Regions from separate parts of the Homo sapiens genome. Here regions 2, 3 and 4 are each linked to region 1. Evidence: fine-mapped expression QTL. A gene starts in region 1. Each other region holds a variant in brackets. All regions are shown on one strand. Distances are between the middles of the regions.

Region 1 (5,147 bases):
GAGGGAGGCATGTTGGGATTGCTGTGTGGTGGTGTTTCAGTCCAGATAACCTTGTTCCTGGGGCTAAATTTGAAAAGCTTATGCCCTTCTTCGAGGGTCATGGTTATAGTGCAGTTGTAAAAATATAACTTTTGATCATGGCCTAGTATAATATACATCATATGACTTTCTGGAGTAGCTTTTTGATGGAAGCCAAGGACGTAAACTTAAAATGTCAACCACGGAAGTCATTTGAGTGGAAAAAGCCATCATGCATTCTGAGTAGAATGTTAACACTCATGCACTCCATAGAACTCGAAGAAGCACACACGTCATTCTCCTGCACGCGTACCATCCAACAAATGTTCTTGTGCAGTCCTGTTCAGACTGCAGGGCCATCTCTCACACACATACACACATTGCTGCGTACACTGAAACAGTCCTGCTGCCCCCAACTTCCCATGCACACACACACTCAAGGCATACACTGGCACACAGTCCCTTGTGTGCCAGTGTATGGGACTCACACAACCCATGTGCATACACACATGTACACACATACACACTCATATTCATGCGTACACTGGCGCTCAGTCCCACTGGCTCCCCCACATGTACACACACTCACACTCATGCATACACTGGCGCTCAGTCCCATGGTTCCCCCACATCCCATGTACCTATGTAACTTCTGCAGAAAGAGACTTGGAAAGCCATCTTACTTCTGCACCTCACTCTGCCTCCAGATTTTGCTCCCTTAGGACAGAGCCTAAACTGTCTATTTAATAGATTCAATTACTCCAGGCTCCTGAGACCTTCCAACTAAATTCTGATTGCTTTAAGGTGTCAGGTAATTTGGGAATAAAGGGAGGAAAACAGCTTCAAATTCTTGAAGGGAAAGTCTTTTAGACTCTAGCTGTCTCTGACATGGTAGCTACTAATTGCAACTCAGGAAGGGGTGGCCTGGAGGGCGCGGCCTCCAGGGGTCAAAGCTTCTGATCTCTAGGCAAGGTTCTGCCCTGAAGGACAGAGGCCTCTGGGGCAATGCTTTGCTGCTCTGCTGCGGTCTCCAGGGTAGGGACCAATCTCTGCTGCCCTTCCTGGAAGGCCAGCAGAGTCCAGGCCAAGCATCCCAGCAGGCAACAAAACAGCCCTGCTTTCTGCCTTCTGCACCCCACTCCCAGGTGTTTTATTTTGTCTGCTCTCTGTCCCCAGTGACAGTGACAGCTCTTGGAGGTTGATAAATAATCAGAGGTCATAGTGTTCAGAGAGCATCAATGTTGTGCCCGACAGAGATGGATCTGACCTGTCCTGAGCTCCAGAAGCCTGGAGAGAGAGGCCATGTGTGTGTGCATGCATGTGTGTAGGTGTGTGTAGGTGTGCGTGTGTGTGTGCATGTGTGTAGGGGTGTGTGTGTGTGCACTACATGAACTGTGATTGGCCAAAAGGAGGCTGAGGGTAAGTGCTGTAGACCCAGACCTTTTGTGTGTGAATGCTAGCTTCATCATTGACCAGCTGTGTGACTTTGGGCAAGATCCTTGCCTTCTCTGTGACTCAGTTCCTCTGCTGTGAAATGGGTATGCTAATGGTGCCTACCTTCTAGGGTGGCTATGAGGATTAAACGAATTATAATATGTACGTAGCACCTAACACAGCTCCTGACGCCCAGCAAATAATCCAAATATTGTGGGTTATTGTGTTTTATAATTAATGGGCAAGAGAAGGCAAGGCTGAAGGGCTGGGAGAGCCCTGGGGTGGGGGTCTGGCTGTAGCCCCAGGGCAGCAGGATGAGCCCCCTCCCTCAGCCCCCTTGGCTGTTCTCACACTCTCTGCGGGGCAGTCCTGACCGCCTATTTATCATCAGAAGATCCCCGCACAACACTCTTCTGGCGCGGTTGGCGCGGCAGAATCCAGGATGCACACGAGGACGCCCACGGGGCGTGTGGGGACCGTGCCCCTCCGCAGACCTCTCCCGGATCACCTGCTCCACACGCAGGCCTTGGTGACCCCTCAGCCTGCTGCTCCTTGCTTCCGCCCGCCCTGCTGTGGGTCCCGCACCTTCTCAGTGTGCCATGCCTTGCATTCAAGCTGGTCCTAGTCACAGCCAGGACCTCCTCAGCGCGCAGAGACTTTCAGATGATCTTTGTAGGGGTTTTTGCCTCCGGTCAACTGCGCCCCTTAGGAAGGGCTTTGGAGGACACAGATCACAGAACAGTTTCAGCTCCACCACTTCCTAGCTTTACGGCCTTGGGCATCTCAGCATTCCTATTCTCTGGGTTATAGGGATATGATGTTTGTCTCTCAAGGCTACTGTGGAGATTACATACTAGAAATTTGCAAGGGCTGGGAATGCAATAGACCGTAAATGTTCCCCTTCCCTTGACGCTATAGCTTAGATGGGAGGGAGCCACTGCTGAGGAAACACCTCCTTAACCCAAAGACAGAGGGTTCCCCAGGCGGGGGTGTGGGAACTCGGAGGTGGGGGTGAGGGAAGGCCAACCTCCACGCTTCGGCCCGGAGGTTCCCCCGCCTCTTCCTGCACGACTGGATTCCTTCTCCATCCGCGCCTCCGGCCCGGTCCCTGCCCCGCCAAATCCGCGCATCGGTTTCCCATCCCATAGCGCAGATAGGTAGGGCAGGTACACAGGGAGGTGTTCGAATGATCCCCGTTTCACAGAAGACGAAACTGAGGCTGGGAGGCCTGGGGACTGGCCCGGCTGCAGCGCCGCCGTTAGCCGAAGGTGGGAGCCGGCGCGGTCACGCGCATGGAGCGTGGATCGCGACGATTTCGGGGGAGGGGGCAAGGGCGCTCCGCAGGCCCTGAGCCGGCCGGGGGGTGGGGTCTCTGCGGGGCGGGGCGGGGCGGGGCGAGGGAGAAGGGGCAGGCCGCCGCTGCCACGCAGTACTCCCGCCTTGGCGCCAGAGGGGCGCGGGACGGTGCGGTCGGCCTCCCCGCCTCCACGCGCGCGCACGACCCGCGCACTCCCGGAGCTTCGCCCATCTCGCCTCGCCGCGCCGCGCAGGCAGCCGCTCGCAGAGCCAGCAGCCGGGGCCCTGGCGTGCAGCGCGGGCCTCGGCGGGGCCCAGCGCCCCGGCCCGGGAGGATGCGGCCCGGGGCGGCCCGGGAGCTGAGCAGGGCCCCCGCGCCGGCCCCTCCGGGCCCCGGCCTCCAGAGCCGCAGCCACCGCCCCGCCCCCGAGAGACATGACTTCCAAGCCGCATTCCGACTGGATTCCCTACAGGTACGCGGGCGCCGGGCCGGGGCGCCCACCACTCCCGACTCGGGACGTGAGCTGGCTGGGGATACGCGGCCGGGGCGCAGGGCACCGCTGCCCTCCCCACCTATCCCAGCACTGGGGCGCGGGTTGGAGTCGCTGGTCCTTCCTCCCTCAACTTTGAGGGCCCCTGCGGACTGCTCCCGCCTGCCCCGCTCCACCCCCTTATCTGCCAGGGTTGCTGGAAGGGGCCTGTGTGGGCCTTGTTGGGTCAGGCAGCACCATGTGGCCGCCTGGGGAAGGAGTCCACACTGCTCTGAGCCCCCTCCTAGGCCCAGAACCCCAGTCACACGCCTGTGCAGGGTGCGCGCACACGCTCATACATCTGCACGCATGCACCCACAGGACGTCCCTGCCTTGGGCCAAAGACGCTCCTGCTGGTCGGTTCACACTCTCAAAGCATGGATCCGTGAAGACAGTTATTCTGAACCAAGAGCACACCAGTGGTCATGTGGACATGCACCCGTATATTCTACACACAAGAATTCTTGGGCTCACAAAGACACATGCCTGCATATCTGTGCACGTCCACCTCCTGTATCTGGAGAATAACTGACACCTGCTTCTCACTCACAAGTGCTACTCAGTCTCTTTCAGACACTGAATAATCTACTTGCTAGCAGGTCTATACCTAGACACACACCAGCTCACAGTACATAGAACTGCCCTCACATGCAGAAAGGCACTCAAGAATCCAGGCACACTCAGGGAAGCCCCCCACCCTCTGCTGCCAGGCACTGTGGTCTATCTCAAGGATGGCTGGGCTTTCCCATTTGCCTGGGAAGGGGGCGGGGAGGTGGTCTCTGGGGGGCCCCTCACAGGTGCAGGTCTTTCCCTATCCACTCTACTCCATTCTATTACCAGGGAAGGGAGCTCATCGCCATGGCAGCGCCAGATTCTTGGCCACCCATTGGCTCCTTGGTTGCCATGGGCTACGGGGCTGTCTCTGTGGAAAATGGGTGCTGGACTCCTAAGGCCCACTGTGTTATTGTCGACCCAGGTGCACGTGCTAGCGGACGGCAGGATGAGATCCTCAGGTCCCGCCTTGTAACACAGCTTGCTCTCTGTTAGAGCCTCATACCAGTCACTGATAGAAAATAGTTCTGACAGGGCTCTTCTCTGAGTCTGTCCAGACAGCGTCCCAAATGGAAACCAGCTGAAACCGCCCAAGGCTTCTTAAAAGCAGATCCTTCTGAAAACAGGCACGTGGCCTGGGAACTCAGGGTTTCTCTTGAGAATTGTTACCTCTAATCTCAGCTCCTGTGGGGGATTCAGGGGTTTCCAGGTTATTTTGTGTCTCTCCCCACAACCACCAGCAACACCCTCACACGTGCGCACATACAGGTCACCCACAGGCTCTCCTGCAGACACATGTAGTCACACTTCAGTCTCACATGGATTAGGGAGCTGTTTCCATCATGGAACCAGGGACTGGGGCTGTGCTGACTGAGAAGAGCTGCTGCGCCAGACAGACGTCCAGGCTGGGGCACAGGTAGTTTCTGGAGGATCCTGGCCTTTCTTGGCACATGTGGGCTGAGGACCTTCTAGAAGACAGTGCAGCCCCATGGAGCGTCATCAACCTTTTCTAGCCACGCGGCAGAGGTGCCTGGGCGGTGCTTGTGGGCTGAGTGGACTCCGGTGCTGTGGAAGTACCTGTGTGCGGGGGTCCAGATGGCAGGGTGGTGGCCATGGACCGAGGAGGGTGGGAGGGGCAGCACTTACGGCTGTGGAGATTATGACGTGGTTAGGATCTGGCAAACTGGAGGTTGGGCCAGGCCAAGACATGGTTCTAGAAAGCTTCTCCCAGGGAGCCAGGGACTAAAGCCACTTGTAGAGAGTGTGCAGGGGTCTTAGAGAAAATATGCCTCAAACGGAATGGCTTAAGCCTGTTCC
Region 2 (5,147 bases), 59 kb before region 1:
CCTGTCTTACAGCCGCTGGAGCTATGACAGGTAGGGCGCCCGAAGGGTGGCCCTGCGTGAGCGCCTGCTGACCCTCGATCTCCTGCGGGAGAAGCGGGCCTCCGGGGGCTAGGACTGGCGCGAGCGCCCGACCCCCAGGGTGGGCTTGGGCACCCGGACCCTCGGGCATCCGGGACCCAGAGCCTCGGGTACGGCGCAGCGGAGCTCCAGCGAGGGTAGTGTCCCCACACCCACGGGGCAGAGCTGTCGGAGGAGGGCACGCGGCCACTGGGACTAGCGAGCTGGCACCTCTGCCCCCACCCCAGCTGCCCCGCCAGGGTCGCTCCGCCGGGGGACCCCGAGAAAGGGCGCGGAGGGGGCGCCGGGAGGGGCGGGGCAGGGGCCGGGGTGGGCCCCTGGCGGGCGGGGCGAGGAGGGGGCGCCTTCGGCTCTGGGATGCGCCCGCCGGCGTCTGCGCCCCGCCGGCCCTCCGCAGGGACCGAGGCTGGCCCCGGGCGGAGTGTCCCGCTGGCTGCCGGGGACCCGCGAGTCGCTGCCTGTTCCGCGGGGCGAGATGGCAGCCTGGGCCGGCTGTCTGGGCGCAGGAGCGGCGCTCTCGAGTTGCCAGGCTCCGCGCCCGCCCCGCGGGGATGGCGAGCGGCTGCCGGCGTGGGCGGTTTGGAGCTGCGCTCCCCACGCACTCGTCCTGGAGGAAGGAGTCATCCTCCCAGGCGAAATGAAAAAAATAAGAACGGAGTGAGTTGGTCATAAAGCCGAGTACATTTATTCCTAGGTTATGCCTGTTCTACCTTTTGTTGGTGTGTTAAATGCCACCCTTGTATTTAAAATGAAACCATGATGATAGTAGATAGTAGTTTGTTTGTTTGTTGTTTTTAAGTTTCGTAACCCCAAGTCCATCTGCAGAATTCTGGAGTTAAATTTCCTGACCCATGACCCTAGATGGTGAGGGCTGGAAGACAAACTTCATTTACTGGGCTGCTCTCATCTCCGTGAAGTCCTGCTTCCTGTGCTCTCCTTCCCTTAACTCTGCCAAAAACCTCCCTGCATCTTCGACAGCCCTTGTTTGCCTAGATTCAGAGGAACAGGTGTCCCTCCTGCCTAAGGCTAGTTTGCCTAGGACCCCTCCTCACCTTCCCTGAGTCTCGCCCCGTATTAATCCCATCTGTCTCCTCCATCTGCACCTTCGCCTCTTTACTAGTGATCTCTCTTCAGCCTGTAAACTTATTCACCTGTGTCTTGTTTACCTCCTCGAGATGGGCGCAACTGATCCACGTCTGTTTTTTTCCTTTCATTGCCTTCTTTGGGGAAATATATCGTCTGAATTGGTTAATTCTGTTTCTTCATCAGCCCTTCCTTGCACAGCCCCAGCAAATCTCCTGTCCACCTCATGATTCCAGTGCACCTGCCTTTTTGAAAAGTGGTGCTCTCCACGGAGAAGAACTCTATTATTGGAGTATTAAACTTAAAATAACAAAACCTACAAACTTTGGTTCAGATCCCAAATTCACACATTCATTCATTTATTCAACAAACATGTATTGAGTGCGAACTATATCCTGGGCCCTGGAAATAAGGCGATAAAAAGATAGAATTTCCTCCGGGAGATGAGCTCACAGTCTAGATTATATTAGAAATAAGCAGTGACATATTCTGGGAGAAAAACTTAAAGTTGAGCTAATTCCATATAGTAAATAATTTTTCCCTGCAAAAGCAAACCTATAAAAGCAGAAAGACTTTGGAATTAGATAACCTGCATTCAAATCCTGACTCCACCTAGCTAACTTTGGACAAATTACTTCTCCCTGGGCCACAGTTTCTTGGGGAAGTGTTGTGAGTATTAAATGAGGTAATAGGCCTGGCGCAGTGGCTCACACCTGTAATCCCAGTACTTTGGGAAGCTGAGGTGGGCAGATCACTTGAGATCAGTTTGAGACCAGCCTGGCCAACATGGTGAAACCCCGTCTGTACTACAAATACAAAAAACAAAAACCATTAGCTGGGCATGGAGGTGCACGCCTGTAATCCCAGCTACTTGGGAGGCTGAGGCTGGAGGATTGCTTGAGCCGGGGAGGCGGAGCTTGCAGTGAGCCGAGATTGTGTCACTGCACTCCAGCCTGGACGACAGAGCTAGACTCTGTCTCAAAAAATAAAAATAAATAAATGAGGTAATAAATATAAAGGGCCTATCATATTGCCTGGGACTTAGTAATCATGCAACAAGTGGTATAAATTGCTGTTTTATTAATGCATATTGTAAACGTTTCTGGAACTCTAGTCTTCCACAGAAGCTTGGTTTGAAAATCTTGGCCAGGCGTGGTGGCTCACGCCTGTAATCCCAACACTTTGGGAGGCTGAGGCAAGCAGATCACGAGGTCAGGAGATCGAGATCCTCCTGGCTAACACGGTGAAACCCCGTCTCTAATAAAAATACAAAAAAATTAGCTGGGCGTGGTGTCGGGCGCCTGTAGTCCCAGCTACTCAGGAGGCTGAGGCAGGAGAATGGCGTGAACCCGGCAGGTGGAGCTTGCAGTGAGCC[G/A]AGATCACGCCACTGGACTCTAGCCTGGGCAACAGAGCGAGACTCCAGCTCAAAAAAAAAAAAAAAAAGAAAATTATTTTTCTGCTTTCAGACCCCTACATAAAGACATTTACTGGGTTTCTGTCTTCAGAACTCTTTTCTTCTCACCCTGACAATCTCAGTACCTGGGGAGCTATGTGAAGAAAACAACTCACCTGGCCCTTGACCAAACTAACTGAATCAGAATATCCAGGGGTAGGACCTGGGCTCAATGTTTGTTTAAAACTTCGCAGTTGATTGTGCTGCAGCTGGTTTGTCTACTCTCCAAAAGCACTAGTCCACACCACCTCCTCTATGTTCTCATCAGTACTTGTTTTTTAAGACATAAATATTGAATTATTCAAAAATTACACAATACTCAATCAAGCTGTTAAAACCATTACACAAGCAACACATACATTGGGTACATAGCATTAAAAGTGAAAATCTGTGTTCTGCTGACCTCATCCCCATCCTAACTCTATAAGGAACCATTGTTAATAGTTAACTTTCACTTTCCAGCACTGTTCTCTGGTTGCTGCCCCCATCACATCTTTGAACCTGGCAAACACCTTTCCTTCAAGTCCTCACCCAAGTTGACCTCTCCTCCGTGTGTTTATGTAAGCTGTTGTCCGCCTTGCTTCTGGGCCATGTGCATGTCAGTTATCTATTGCCATGTTAACAAGTGACTCCTAAATTTAGTGACTTAAAATAACAACTGTTTTGGCCAGGCGCGGTGGCTCAGGCCTGTAATCCCAGCACTTTATGAGGCCAAGGCGGGCGGATTACCTGAAGTCAGGAGTTCAAAACCAGCCTGGCCAACATGGTGAAACCCTGTCTCTACTAAAAATACAAAAATTAGCCAGGTGTGGTGGCACATACCTGTAATCCTAGCTACTCGGGAGGCTGAGGCAGGAGAATTGCTTGAACCCGGGAGACGGAGGTTGCAGTCAGTGCAGTGGAGATCGTGCCACTGCACTCCAGCCTGGCCGACAGAGCAAGACTGTGTCTCAAAAACAAAACAAAACAAAACAAAAAACACACAAACAAAAACAAAACAACAACAACAAAACAACTGTTTGAGTTAGCACAAGATTCTGTGGATCAGCAATTTGGGCTGGGCTTAGCTGGGCAGTTTTGTGGTCTGGGCCAGGCTCAGCTTTTCTGGGTTGGGCTTGCTCACATATCTGGTGCTCCGGCTGGGAAGGCTAGAGCAGCTGGGCCTTCTCTCCACGTGCCTTCTCATCTTGCAGCAGTCTCACTCAGGTTGGCACACATGGTGGTGGAAGGGATTCCAGTGAGACAGCAGAAGCTGCAGGGTCTCTTGAGGCCTAGGTTTAGAACTTGCACATCACTCTGCTGCCTTGTATTAGTCAAAGTCAGTCAAAATGCCAGCCCACATTTCAGGGGTGGGGAAACAGGCCTTACCTCTTGGAGGCAGGAGCTGAAAATCTATGGCCATTTTTCCAACCTACCAAAATATGATGCCTACATTTTTACAATTTCTGGCTCCTCTTAGGTCCCCACTGTCCACATCTGAGCACATGCCAAAGTGCTCCTCTTTTCCAGTTCACTCTATTCCATTCTATTCTCAGGCTACACCCTGGTCTCAGTTATCAACGCAATGCTTCTAACACAGAAATCTATATCTTCAACTCCAGCCTTTTTGCCAAGACTTAGTCCCACATCTCTAAATGCCTGTAGACGTCTCCATCTAGACATTCAGCCAACAGCTTTAACGCAATAGGTTTAAAATCAGACCTTTCACTGATAACTGTATTCTCTAGTCAGCATCCACAAGCCAAACGGACTCCTCAAAACTTGGACATTGACCTTGACCTCTCCAAATCTCCTTATCTATACCACTGATTGTGATGAAGATAAAAGGAAAAGATCTATGTAAAATGACTGGCACAAAGTGGGTATCATGAAGTCCATTTTTTTCCACAGCTTGGCACCCCATTAACCATTTTGTCTCCACTCAAGCTTCAGTCGTTATCCTCAAAGGCTTCAGTGCCCATATCAGTGACCAAACTAGCACTCTTCACTCCCAATTTCTGGACCTTCCCATTCTAGACCCTTCTCTTCAGTTATTCACAGGATAAATTCCTAGATGATGACAGCTGGAATTGCTTCACTTCTAATCTCATACACATGAATTGCCAGCTCTCTGACCTCAGGCATGTTCCTTATACATTACTCCTGCCATAACACGAAGGTGTCTGCCTTCATGGCCTACCAGCCTTTTCCCGGCCTCTCTTCTCTTCCCAGCTTGTATTACATGGTAGATTATTTCAGTCACTCACTCCAGCACTTTTTATTCCCTCACGTATGCTCAGCACGACTCTAGCCCGGCGTGGATCAATGTTAAAATCTCTATCCCCTTTCTTCTTATAACACTAGAATCCTACAACAAAAATGACTTGCCTGTGCAGGATGTCACCACTTTCATGGTCTTCATCTTCGGCCGGGCCACCAATGCCATCTCTCAGTCTTTCTGCTTCTCCCTGATGAACTTCACTCCCATTGCCCACAACAGCCCTTCCAAACCTTCCGCACTCTCAAGACCCCTCTCTGCTTGACCCTTATCTGC
Region 3 (5,147 bases), 560 kb after region 1:
CTGTGCTGCCTTGTTTTTGGGGAGGCTGTGTTCCCTGAGTGATCCTACGATGGGCAGAATATGCACGCCAAGCCACCCTGACGCTTACCTGCAGGGTCTCCTCCTGGCTCTGGGACTGGACAGGTGCTGGCTGCCTCACGATGTAGTTGATCTGCCCCACAATGGTTTGCTGAAGATGCTGAGGAGATTTGGTCTGACTCAGTTGCAGGCTGGGCTGTTGAGCCTGGAGAAGAAGCTCCAAGTCCTTCTGCATTTCCTCCAGCTCAAACTTGTGATGCATTATGTCCATGTTCTGAGAACAGGCAGGGCCAGGAGGGCTCTCGTGCTGACTAGAAGCCAGATGCTGGGATGGAGGAAGAGGTGGGTGTGGCTGCTGTGGGGGAGGGGGAAGGGGAGGTGGGGGATGGGGGAGGGGTGGTGGTGGAGGTGGTAGCTGCTGCTGTGGCTGCTGCTGAAAGTGACTGAGCTTCAGCTTCTGGTGGTGGCCAAACTGGACTTGGATAGAGGGTGTCTGTAAGGTGGGCTGGGCATGGGCTCCTTGCTGAACATCCTGTGGGGGGACAATGCACACGGGCTGGGAAGTCAGCTGCTGCCCCAGCCGCTGGGATGTGCTCTCCTGCTCCACGGGGGGCTGGGTTTCCAGCCAGGGCTGCAGCAGCTTTGGTGGATGAGGGCTGCAGGCCAGCTCTTTCTCCCTGGGCAGCAGGGCAGAGCACTGCAGAGACCCCAGCTGCTGGGGCACCATCTCAGGGGGCTGCCTGAAGCTGTGGGCTGGGTGTATGCTGGGTGGGGGGACCTGGCCTTTGAGGGAAGGCGAGACTGGGGAGCAGTGGGAGCAGCACACAGATGAGGAGCACACTGCTGGAGACTGGAACTTGTGTGAGGGGTGGCTAAGAGCCTCTTGCTGAGCCACTGGAGACTGGTGGCTTTGATAAAAGGGTGATGACCCCTGTAAGCCTCCATAAGCAGGAGCATCTGCCCTGGACATTTGTCCACCTTCAGTAGTTATGCAGCCTGAAAATGCAGAATAGAGAGTTTTTCAAAAGTTTTTCAAGTTGCTCCCACCTTGCTACTTCCTGCTCCTGGGACAAAAGAACCTCATTCAACAATCCTGTACCAGGAACAGAGATTAAGAAACTCAACCCTTGATCTCCTAGACTCGGTCTAGAATGCTGCCAGTAATAGCACCTGTATGCACCTGCTTTGGGGGCCTAGGATATTTGAGAAATTAGTTCAGCTTTTACCAGATGCTCAGCCCTGACTCTGTTTCTGTCCCACTAGGGAAACCACAAGCTCTCTCAAATAGCACCCACTCATTTTTTTCCAACAGAACAGCCCAATCAGACTCTCACAAAAAGAATCAACTTTGGGGTTGGGAGGGAGTATGCTAGAAAGTAGCAAAGGGTAGAGAGCCATGCCTGGGACCAATGAACAAGTTCCCAGATACAGGTGTGGGGAACTGTGTGTTGAGCAAGTAGGACGGAAGAGAGTGGGGAAGCTCTAATACCAGGTGATACAGTTTGGAGCTGTGTCCCCGCCCAAATCTCATGTTGAATTGTAATCCCCAGTGTTGGAGGTGGGGCCTGGTGGGAGGTGACTGGATCGTGGGGGCGGATCCCTCATGAGTGGTTTAGCACCGTCCCTTTGGTGCTGTTCTTGTGATAGAGGTCTCGTGAGACCTGATTTCTTTAAAGTGTGTAACACCTCCCCCTTGCTCTGTTTCTTGCTGCTCTGTCCATGTGATGTGCGTCTTCACCTTCTGTCATGATTGTAAGTTTCCTGAGGCCTCCCCAGAAGCCGAGCAGGTTCCAGGATCATGCTTCCTGTACATCCTGCAGAATCATGAGCCAATTAAACCTCTTTTCTTTATAAATTACCCAGTCTCAGGTATTTCTTCACAATAATGCGAGAATGGACTAATACACCAGGTCAGTGCCAGGCACCGGCACTGCCCCCTGAGGCCTCTAGGTCCCTTGTGCACAAGTAGATCTATGGCTAACTCAGTCTAATGACTCCTTCCTCTCATTATTTTGGTGAGACTTACTTAGAAGAAGTCTGAGCTCCTTAAGGAAAATGTGTTTTATTCACCATTGGTTCTTTGGTGCTCAGCATGGGGCCTAAACAAGAGTAGGTGGCCATCAAAGGTCTGCTGAGTTAAATCAAAGGAAAGAGGGAAGAAAAGAAATAAACCTACATATCATTTGTCACTTTGCCAAGTTCAACAAATTTTCAATAAGATTAACAGCCTCAAATGAAGGCAGCAGCTGGCCATCAGTTTAACACTCGTTAGGCTGTCAACACAGGCACAACTTCAAGCTGTCTACATTCTGCCTAAAGACTGAATGCCAGCAAATGATTGCAGCAGGGAAGAAAAATGCACAAGGCCATGAATTATCTGCTTACATCTCAACTCGAAAGGATATGTCTGTGTGACACAAACATGCACACGCAGTCTCACTGTTGCTGAGATACCCCTGCTTGTGCCCACACGTGTATACCTTTGTGTGACCACAGAGACACACATTCATCTGTACTGCCATACAGCATTCCGGAGAGCAGGGTGACTGTCTTGTCTCCTCCTCAGCAATAAAACCAATGTAACAGGACATTTACACAGAATGGTAAACTCAGATTTCAACTCATCCTGATACAAAGTCCTATATTGCCACTGTTATTTAATTCCTCATCCTCTCCTCTTCCCCCTCAAAAAAAAAAAAAAAAAAAAAAAAAGGTTTGCTGAATGATTCCATGACCACTGGCAGTCCCAGAGAGTGCTTTCTCTTGGGCATATGCTGACCTACCCAGTAAGGTAAGCAATTAAGTCAAAGCCCACAGGGTGGGTAGGCCTGGGTGGGTGGGTCCAAGCTCACCAAGAGAAGCTAGCTGCTTGGTCCAGAAGTTAGGCTCCCAGGTGAATCTGATACTCCAAGGGGAGCCAGGATCTGTGTTACAACTTGTCTCCAGCAATCGCTGCATCTGAAACACAATCTGACAACAGCACCAAAGGTCATTTATTTGGGCATCTTGCACCTAAATGACAACTCCCCTTCCCTTACTCTTTGGACAAGCTGAAAGGCTCAAAGTCATGGCCCTTTAACCTCTGGTCATCCTCCATATTCTCATTCTCTTGCACCTTAGCACCTGTCCATCCTCCCAGCTGATCCCTTTCCTCTTATCAAGGCTCCTGGAACCTACATTCTTTTTTTTTTTTTTTTAATTGAGAC[G/A]GGGTCTCACTCTGTTGCCCAGGCTGGAGTGCAGTGGCGCGATCTTAGCTCACTGCAAGCTTTGCCTCCCAGGTTCACGCCATTCTCCTGCCTCAGCCTCCTGAGTAGCTAGGACTACAGGTGCCCGCCACCACGCCCAGCTAATTTTTTGTATTTTGTTTAGTAGAGACGGGGTTTCACTGTGTTAGCCAGGATGGTCTCGATCTCCTGACCTCGTGATCTGCCCACCTCGGCCTCCCAAAGTGCTGGAATTACAGGCGTGAGCCACCGCACCTGGCCTGGAACCCCTACATTCTTATCTTTTCAGGCCTTAAGTGATTTGTCATTCTCCCTCACTACATCGTTGACTGGCAGCTCCATTCATTCTACCATCACCTCAATTTAAAAGCCTAGTGGGGGCAGGCATTGTCTGAGCTCCCCATTGCTGTACTTCCACTTGCAGGTAAAACACCCTTCTGTCCTACTCAATAGCCCTCTTCCTCTCCCAACACTTTCATCTATTTCTCATCACTAACTCTCCTATTTATCCAGGGCTTTGGCAAGTGTCCAACTTACCCTGCTATCCTCTAGTTAACTAATGTCCCAACGAACATCTTAGCCTCTCATTTCATTGATCTCTTGCATGGCAACCACCTTGTTTTCAGTTTAGTCACCATACCTAGACCCTATTCATCATTTACAACCATTCTACCTATGAGACCTTTAAACTCCAACAACCCACCCTGGTCATAACAAGTTCATGCTCTTTCAGAGTATGTTGTTCAACCTCTCCAAGCCCTGCTCCTTCAGTCCACAGGACTTCCCAGCTTCCTTTCATTTACAGTCATGATATCACTAGTGTCCTAATTCCCTCCCCATCGCCAACTCCTACTCTTAGGTAATCCAGCCATACCAAAGCCATGTTATCTGGGGCCACTTCAGTGATTATGAATTTCAGCAGCACCCCTCAGCCCTTTCTCTTGTCACTTCTTTTCTTGTCATCTTTCTCTTCCACTGCACTCAATGACCATTTAAAATCTTTACTTTGGTGCTACTTACCAATGTTTTAACCCTCTTATTATCACCTCCTATTTCACAGAGAAAAAAAAGACACCATAAAGGATAAATTACCCCAACTTGTATCCCTTCTACCCTCAAACTTAACTACAGCATTGTCCCCTTCCTGTCCTCCCATCTCAGACGAAGGGACTGTCCTTGTGTTTAAGGTCAACCAGTTCACTCTATATCCTTCCTCCTGCTTTCTCAGTGTACTTACCCCACCACACACCCCTCCTCTCTATCTTCAACCTCTTCTCCCATATACATGTGTGCAAATGTTTTCCAAGCTTAAAAAAAAGTTTCCCCCAACTCTGCCATCTTCTCAGGCTATGTTTTTATTTTTCTTCTTTTCACTTCTGTCTCTACTTCGTCACCACCCATCCTCAGTCTCCTCATTCTAGCTTTTGACCCTTCTACTTCACTGGAGCTTCTTTCAGAAGATAGCCTGATTCCCAGATCCAGAGGCTGCTCGTCACTATTCATCTTCTTTCACCCATGCAGCATTGTCAAATGGACCACTTAAAATTGGAAACTGTTCATTTCTGTGTACCACACTCTGTTTTGCTTCTAACCTCTGACCATTGCTTCTCACCTCTGACCACTGCTTCTCACTCTCCTCCAGTCATCATCTTCCTCTGTCTATGCTGAAAATGACGGTATTCCCTGGGTTCCTGACTTTCTCTCTTCTTGCTCCACACACTCTTCCAAGGTGATACCACTGATTTCCTGGTGACTCCTACATCTCCTTCTCCAAAACCAACTTTTCTTCTGACTTCCACACCCATATATTAAAACGGCTTTTTAATGGTAGGTAGCTTGGAGTTGGTTTTGGATGCACTACAGGCACCTTAGATTCAAAGTATTCAAATATAAACTCCATCGACT
Region 4 (5,147 bases), 23 kb before region 1:
CAGTCAGGGCAGCTGTCTGCTGTTGCCATGGAAATCTGAAGGCAGCATCTTCTGCAAGGACCAGGATGTAGAGTCTAGAGAGGACAGGCTGCATCAGCCTGGTGGGATCAGTCTGGAGTGGCCTGTGTGTGTGCGTGTGTGAGAGAGAGAGAGGTGGGAGGAGAATGCAAGATAGTGAGTGAGCTTTCTGAAGTGGGTGGCGCATACCTCACCATTGCTCTCTAAGGCCTCAGCCATTACTCTGGATTATCGCTGGGTGGCGCTGTAAGAAGGGGTGTACCCCTGAGATGGCTTCCCTGTGCCCATCAGGACCCGGTCTGGCCTGAGGCTGCTCTTAGAGTGTCCTGGGACCACCTAGACAGATGTGCTGGCATCTGCCCATCATGGGCCCCAGAGCCCACCCAGCATCTGCTGCACACTGGCTCCTCCTTGCTCAGATGATGGGGTGGTCCAGGAGGCAGGCCCTTACCCTGGCCGCACAGATGCTGGGTGATGGGAGCAGACAGACAGAGGCCCCTCACCCCAGGACTCAGCTCTGCTGCTGATGGGCTGGGGGTGGGGGCAAGGACAGGGCAAGAGTACAGGATGATGACTGGGGGACAGGATAGAGTCCAACCTTCAGGTGGAGCTGAGGGCTGGGACAGCCAATGACAGTGTGTGCCTCTGCCACCGCCTCAGTCTGGCAAGGCATAGGAAAGGAGCACCCCCTTGGAGTCCTGACAGCACCTGTGGAGTTGGAAGCAGGAGCCCTGGCCTCCCTGCTCACCTTCCCACTAGCCCCTTCGCTCAGGGCCCTGTGACTTCTGATCCCTCCCTGTGACAGGGGAGCCTGGGCTCAGCGTTCACTGCAGCCTGGGCAAGGCCCTTAAGCCCCCAAGAGTCCCGCTCTCACAGGGCATGGGAGGAGCTTCCAGAAGCAGATGGGTGTCCTTGTTTGGGTTGGGGGTGCTGGGGAGAGCAGGAAGGAGCTGGCTGCTGGAGCCGCCTGAGGCTGGATCTGGAGGACACAGAGGTGTTTAGCCAACAGTTCTGTCCTATCCCTTCTCAGCTCTCTGAAGTCCTCCCTGCACCTCAAGCCAGGGCCTGACCTCCAGGGAAGCAAGCTGTCACCACGAGGAAGTGCACCCTAGCTTTCCCACCTCGTGCTACCAGGATGCCCCTCACTCTCCTTAATCCAGGGCATGGGCTCAGAGGGCTGGCTGGGGTCTCCTGTCCTGGAATGTGCGGCCATATGGGAATGCCTTGAGTGTGTGAGGGCCATATGGGAATGCCTGTGCGTGGGGGTGGCATGAGTGTGTGCTGTGAGGTGTGAGTTTGGAGAGAAGTATAAATAAATGATGGGCACATGTGTGTGGTGCGCATGCTTGTGCTGACAGGGGAAGGCAGGGGGACGTCTGGAGTGTCAGTGGGTTGTGGTGGGCAGGGTGAGGCATCCATTTCTGTGAAATGCCTGGGGGGAGGGAAAAGGTATTTGGCACAGTACATGTGGGTACAAAGCACACGAAGGAATTTTGGGTACATATGCGCATGGGAGCCTTTGTGGGGTGTGGTTTGGGTATGCAGGTAGGCTGTGTGTGAGGTAGAGCTGGAGGAAAATCTATCTGTGGAGTGTCTGAGGTGATGTGTGGGAGGCAGCTGTCTACAGGTGAGCTTGTCTCTGAGTGGTATATGGGGTGACATGTTGTTGTGTGTGATGTGGTTTGGGAGGGTGAGGGGTGTGCAGGCATGTCCCCAAAACAAGCACATGGTGTGTCTCAAGTAAGGTGTGGGGGCAGTGATGGGAACGAACTACAGTATGTAGGCCAAGTGTGTGGGGGAAGGGCAAGTGGGCGTTTCATTCTCTCCACACGTCACGAGTTAGGAGGCACCATTTTCCCCCTCAAAGTTGAGGAAACTGAGGCCCACAGAGTGGAAACAAGCTGGCTGGATCACACAGCAGGGTCTGTTAGACTCTCAGGATCCCAGCTCTGGCAGCTCACAAGCTAGGCTCTGGAGGGCTGGGGAGGGGACTGGCCCTCTGGGTAATGGCAGTAATGGAGGGTCCCATTCAGTTCTTTAGGGTGACTCTCCTGGAACTGGCCCACAGACAGCTCATGAGAATCGATTGCGCAATAAAGGAAAATGTTTGTAAGCCCTTTGCTCAACATAGCTGTTATTAAGCATCAAACTGGCCGGGCACAGTTACTCGCGCCTGTAATCCCAGTGTTCCTGG[A/G]CCAAACCGAGGGTCAGCTGCTTATTCTCAAGGCCCAGTAACGAGATGCAGATGAACTGGGAGAGAGGGGAGTTTTTATTTCTGTAACCGGTCACAGGGAGAAGGCCTGGAAATTATTGCCAGACCAACTCAAAATTACAAAGTTTTCCAGAGCTTATATATCTTCTAAACTATATGTCTATGTGTAAGTGTGCATTCGTCTAAAGACATAAGTGATTAACTTCTTTTAATCTATAACTAAGATTCGAGTCCTGAAGACCTTCCTCTGGGGCCTCAGTAAATTTACTTAATCTAGATGGGTCCAGGTGCCAGGGGTAATTACCCTCCTTATCTTGTCCCCTGCGAAGTCACGGAGGTTTGGGGAGTTCCTTCAGCCCTCCAATAAAACTTATTTGTGGAGGCCTGGGGAGTTTCTTCAGACCCCCAATAAAACTTGTTTAACCTTAAACGAGGCCTGTTAAGAATTCCTTCATTATTTTGTCATGCTTTAAGGCCCAGGAAAGGCCTAGGCAAAACTCTTGGTGGGCTTTTGTTACATCCCAGCCTTTGTATAAGGGCACTGGTTCTGTCAGCTTTTAATATTTGACTTAACCACTCAGTCAGTACTGAAACAGTTGTTATGGAGGCCTGTGTTAGTGATGCCTGGCCTGCCGCACCAGCACTTTGGGAGGCCGAGGCAGGAGGATTGCTTGAGGCCAGGAGTTCGAGACCAGCCTGGGCAACATGGTGAGACCCCCATCTCTACAAAAAAATACAAAAATTAGCCAGGCATGGTGGTACATGCCTGTAGTCCCAGCTACTCAGGAGGCTGAGGTGGGAGGATCACTTGAGCCTAGGAGGTCAAGGCCACAGTGAGCCGAGATCACACCACTGCACTCCAGCCTGGGCTACAGAGCAAGATCCTCTCTCTCAAAAATTAAAAAAAAAAAAAAAAAGAAGCGGTATAAATTTAACATTAAACAAGTTATGTTTACAAAGGTAATATACTGAAAACTCACCACTTCGTATTCATTTTACTGCCTTTCCCTGCGCTTGTCTGTTGTGTCTGCGGGGTGGAACTGCCACGTGACCGTGCACTGCTGAGCATCTCCTCGCACTTCGATGCTCAGTCACATCACAGATTGGCCATGGCGAGGGTGGCTAGACCAGGGGAGTCAACAGGTGCTGCACATTAAGACCTGGTTTATTGTTTTGTTGATTGTCTAGACCTGAGAAAGTGATGGGAAAAAATACTACTAATGCAGATTACATTTTAAAGGGTGTCATGTTTATAGTTGCTCCATGGTGAATAGCAGAAAACAAAGATTTTTCCAGTATTCAGAAACTATTAACCTATTCAGCAAAGAAGTCACTCCGACCACCAGTGAAGGAGTGAAGTTCTGACATGTCTTTGTTGTTTCACTTTCAACTTACTTGTTAACATAAATGAAAATATCAAGCAGCATTAAGCTGGAACTACAGTAATTTGTCATTGCAACCGTAGGTTGGCTACAGATAAAGAGTTAGGCGAAACTCATTGAATGGGTTGATTTCTGGGACAGTCATCTGGCTATATGGAATTTACAATAAAGAATATTGGATATTTCATTAGTATTTGTAAATTATGTGCTATACATCCTTTGTGTCAGTAAAATTTATAATAAACTTATTGAGTCTACGCATGCAGACATTTTCTGGAGAGCTTGTTGTTAAATGTCACTGTTAACACCCCGTAGGCCCTCCATTACACATAGTCCCAACATGTCTCCTTACTGTGCAGACGGTGAGGTAGGGTGGGGTGGAGGGACAGATGTAACTTGCAGAGACCCTGGGAGCAGTGTCTTAGGTTTCCAGACAAGCTGTGGCTTGTCACTAGATCAGCCTGACCTCCTCCTGGCCGGGGGCACTGGGGCTCAGGTGGGGGTCCCGTTCATTGGTCCCTTCTCTGTAGCAGGCTCAGGGATTTACAGGTCAGAGGAAGAAGACGTGGTCACTGCCTGTATGGAGCTCACAGCCCAGCAGAGGAGACATCCAGTCGCAGTTAGTTACACCCTGGAGAGTACAGGGGCAAAAAAAGAAGAAATTGCCCAGCTGAGGCAGGAGCGAGGCTGGGACAAGAGGAGCTGCTCAGCGGAACAGTGCCTCTCGACATTTAGTGTGCAGCATCCACAGATTTGTGTTAAAAATGCGGAGATTCTCTTTTGGCAGGTCTGGGCAGGGTGGTGCCCGGGAGTATGCTAGGGGATGGTGAAGCAGGTACCCAAGGGCACACTGGGAAAAGCCTTGATCTGAGGAGACGAGAGGGTGTGTGCTGAGGCAGGAGATGAGAAAGAAGTTCTGCGGGGAGATCTGCCGGGAGTTTAGGAGTGGCTGGAGCTAAGCCAGCCTGGAGGGGAGACAGCAGAGCAAGGCAGGAGAGGGGTCAGGGGGCAGGTCCTGCAGCCTCGTAAGCCTCATGGAAGAGCTTGGTTTGTATCCTTTGGAACGAGGAGCAGTGGAAAGAGCCTTGTCAGCAGACAAGTGACATGCTCGGGTTGGCTTTTAAAAGTGTAATGTTCCTGGAGCAGGCAGAACTGCAGTCAAGGAGACCAGAAGGAGGCTGGGGACATGTGAGGCCTCGATCCGGGCAGAGGCACTGGGGACAGGGGAGGGGACCGATAGGAGGGCTTCATGGGTGGAGCCACAGGCGAGATGAGGAGGGTTAGGGTGGGGCCTGGGTTTCTGGGGTGATGACTGAGCGAATGGCAGGACTATGCACATTGCCAGAAAACAGGAGGAAGAGCAGGTCTGGAGTAAGGTGAGTTGCTTTGAACCTGGAGACTTAGAGGTATCCCTGGAGGGGCCCAGAGGCATTTGGGGCTCAGGGGAGCCATCAGGAAGTAGATTTGGGAGCCCCATGGATAGGTGGGAAAGCCAAGAGAGTGAAGAGGTCACCTGCGGAGAACACAGTCACAAG

Which allele goes with the higher level. Alleles are on the strand shown, and positions count from the first base shown. SD is a standard deviation of normalised expression in the study named. Not every link is listed here.
For the expression in pancreas of the gene that starts at base 2,884 in region 1, G is the low allele of the variant in region 2 and A is the other (large effect, 0.77 SD a copy in GTEx).
With allele G in place of A in region 4, the expression in breast of the gene that starts at base 2,884 in region 1 is lower (small effect, 0.18 SD a copy in GTEx).

Evidence for each region. PIP is the estimated chance that this variant, and not a neighbour inherited with it, causes the effect.
Region 2: its variant is the best candidate, but not a certain one, in a credible set for the expression of TUB in pancreas (GTEx, PIP 0.84).
Region 3: its variant is the best candidate, but not a certain one, in a credible set for the expression of TUB in ovary (GTEx, PIP 0.88).
Region 4: its variant is the best candidate, but not a certain one, in a credible set for the expression of TUB in breast (GTEx, PIP 0.89).

What each region holds. Positions count from the first base shown.
Region 1 is chr11:8,078,328-8,083,474 of GRCh38, forward strand. TUB (TUB bipartite transcription factor) reads left to right here and starts at 2,884. Exons shown (of 12, transcript NM_177972.3): 1 at 2,884-3,221. The coding sequence starts at 3,184. RefSeq lists an enhancer at 4,835-5,147.
Region 2 is chr11:8,019,329-8,024,475 of GRCh38, forward strand. It overlaps a transcript of TUB not described here. Among named protein-coding and RNA genes, the nearest start is that of CASC23, 5.4 kb to the left of the region's middle. The variant G/A (reference allele first, on the strand shown) is at 2,537.
Region 3 is chr11:8,640,139-8,645,285 of GRCh38, forward strand. TRIM66 (tripartite motif containing 66) reads right to left here. Exons shown (of 25, transcript NM_001388022.1): 13 at 2,871-2,988; 14 at 89-1,014. Among named protein-coding and RNA genes, the nearest start is that of TRIM66, 40 kb to the right of the region's middle. The variant G/A (reference allele first, on the strand shown) is at 3,225.
Region 4 is chr11:8,055,091-8,060,237 of GRCh38, forward strand. TUB-AS1 (TUB antisense RNA 1) reads left to right here and starts at 4,948. Exons shown (of 3, transcript NR_120538.1): 1 at 4,948-4,988. It also overlaps a transcript of TUB not described here. The variant A/G (reference allele first, on the strand shown) is at 2,213.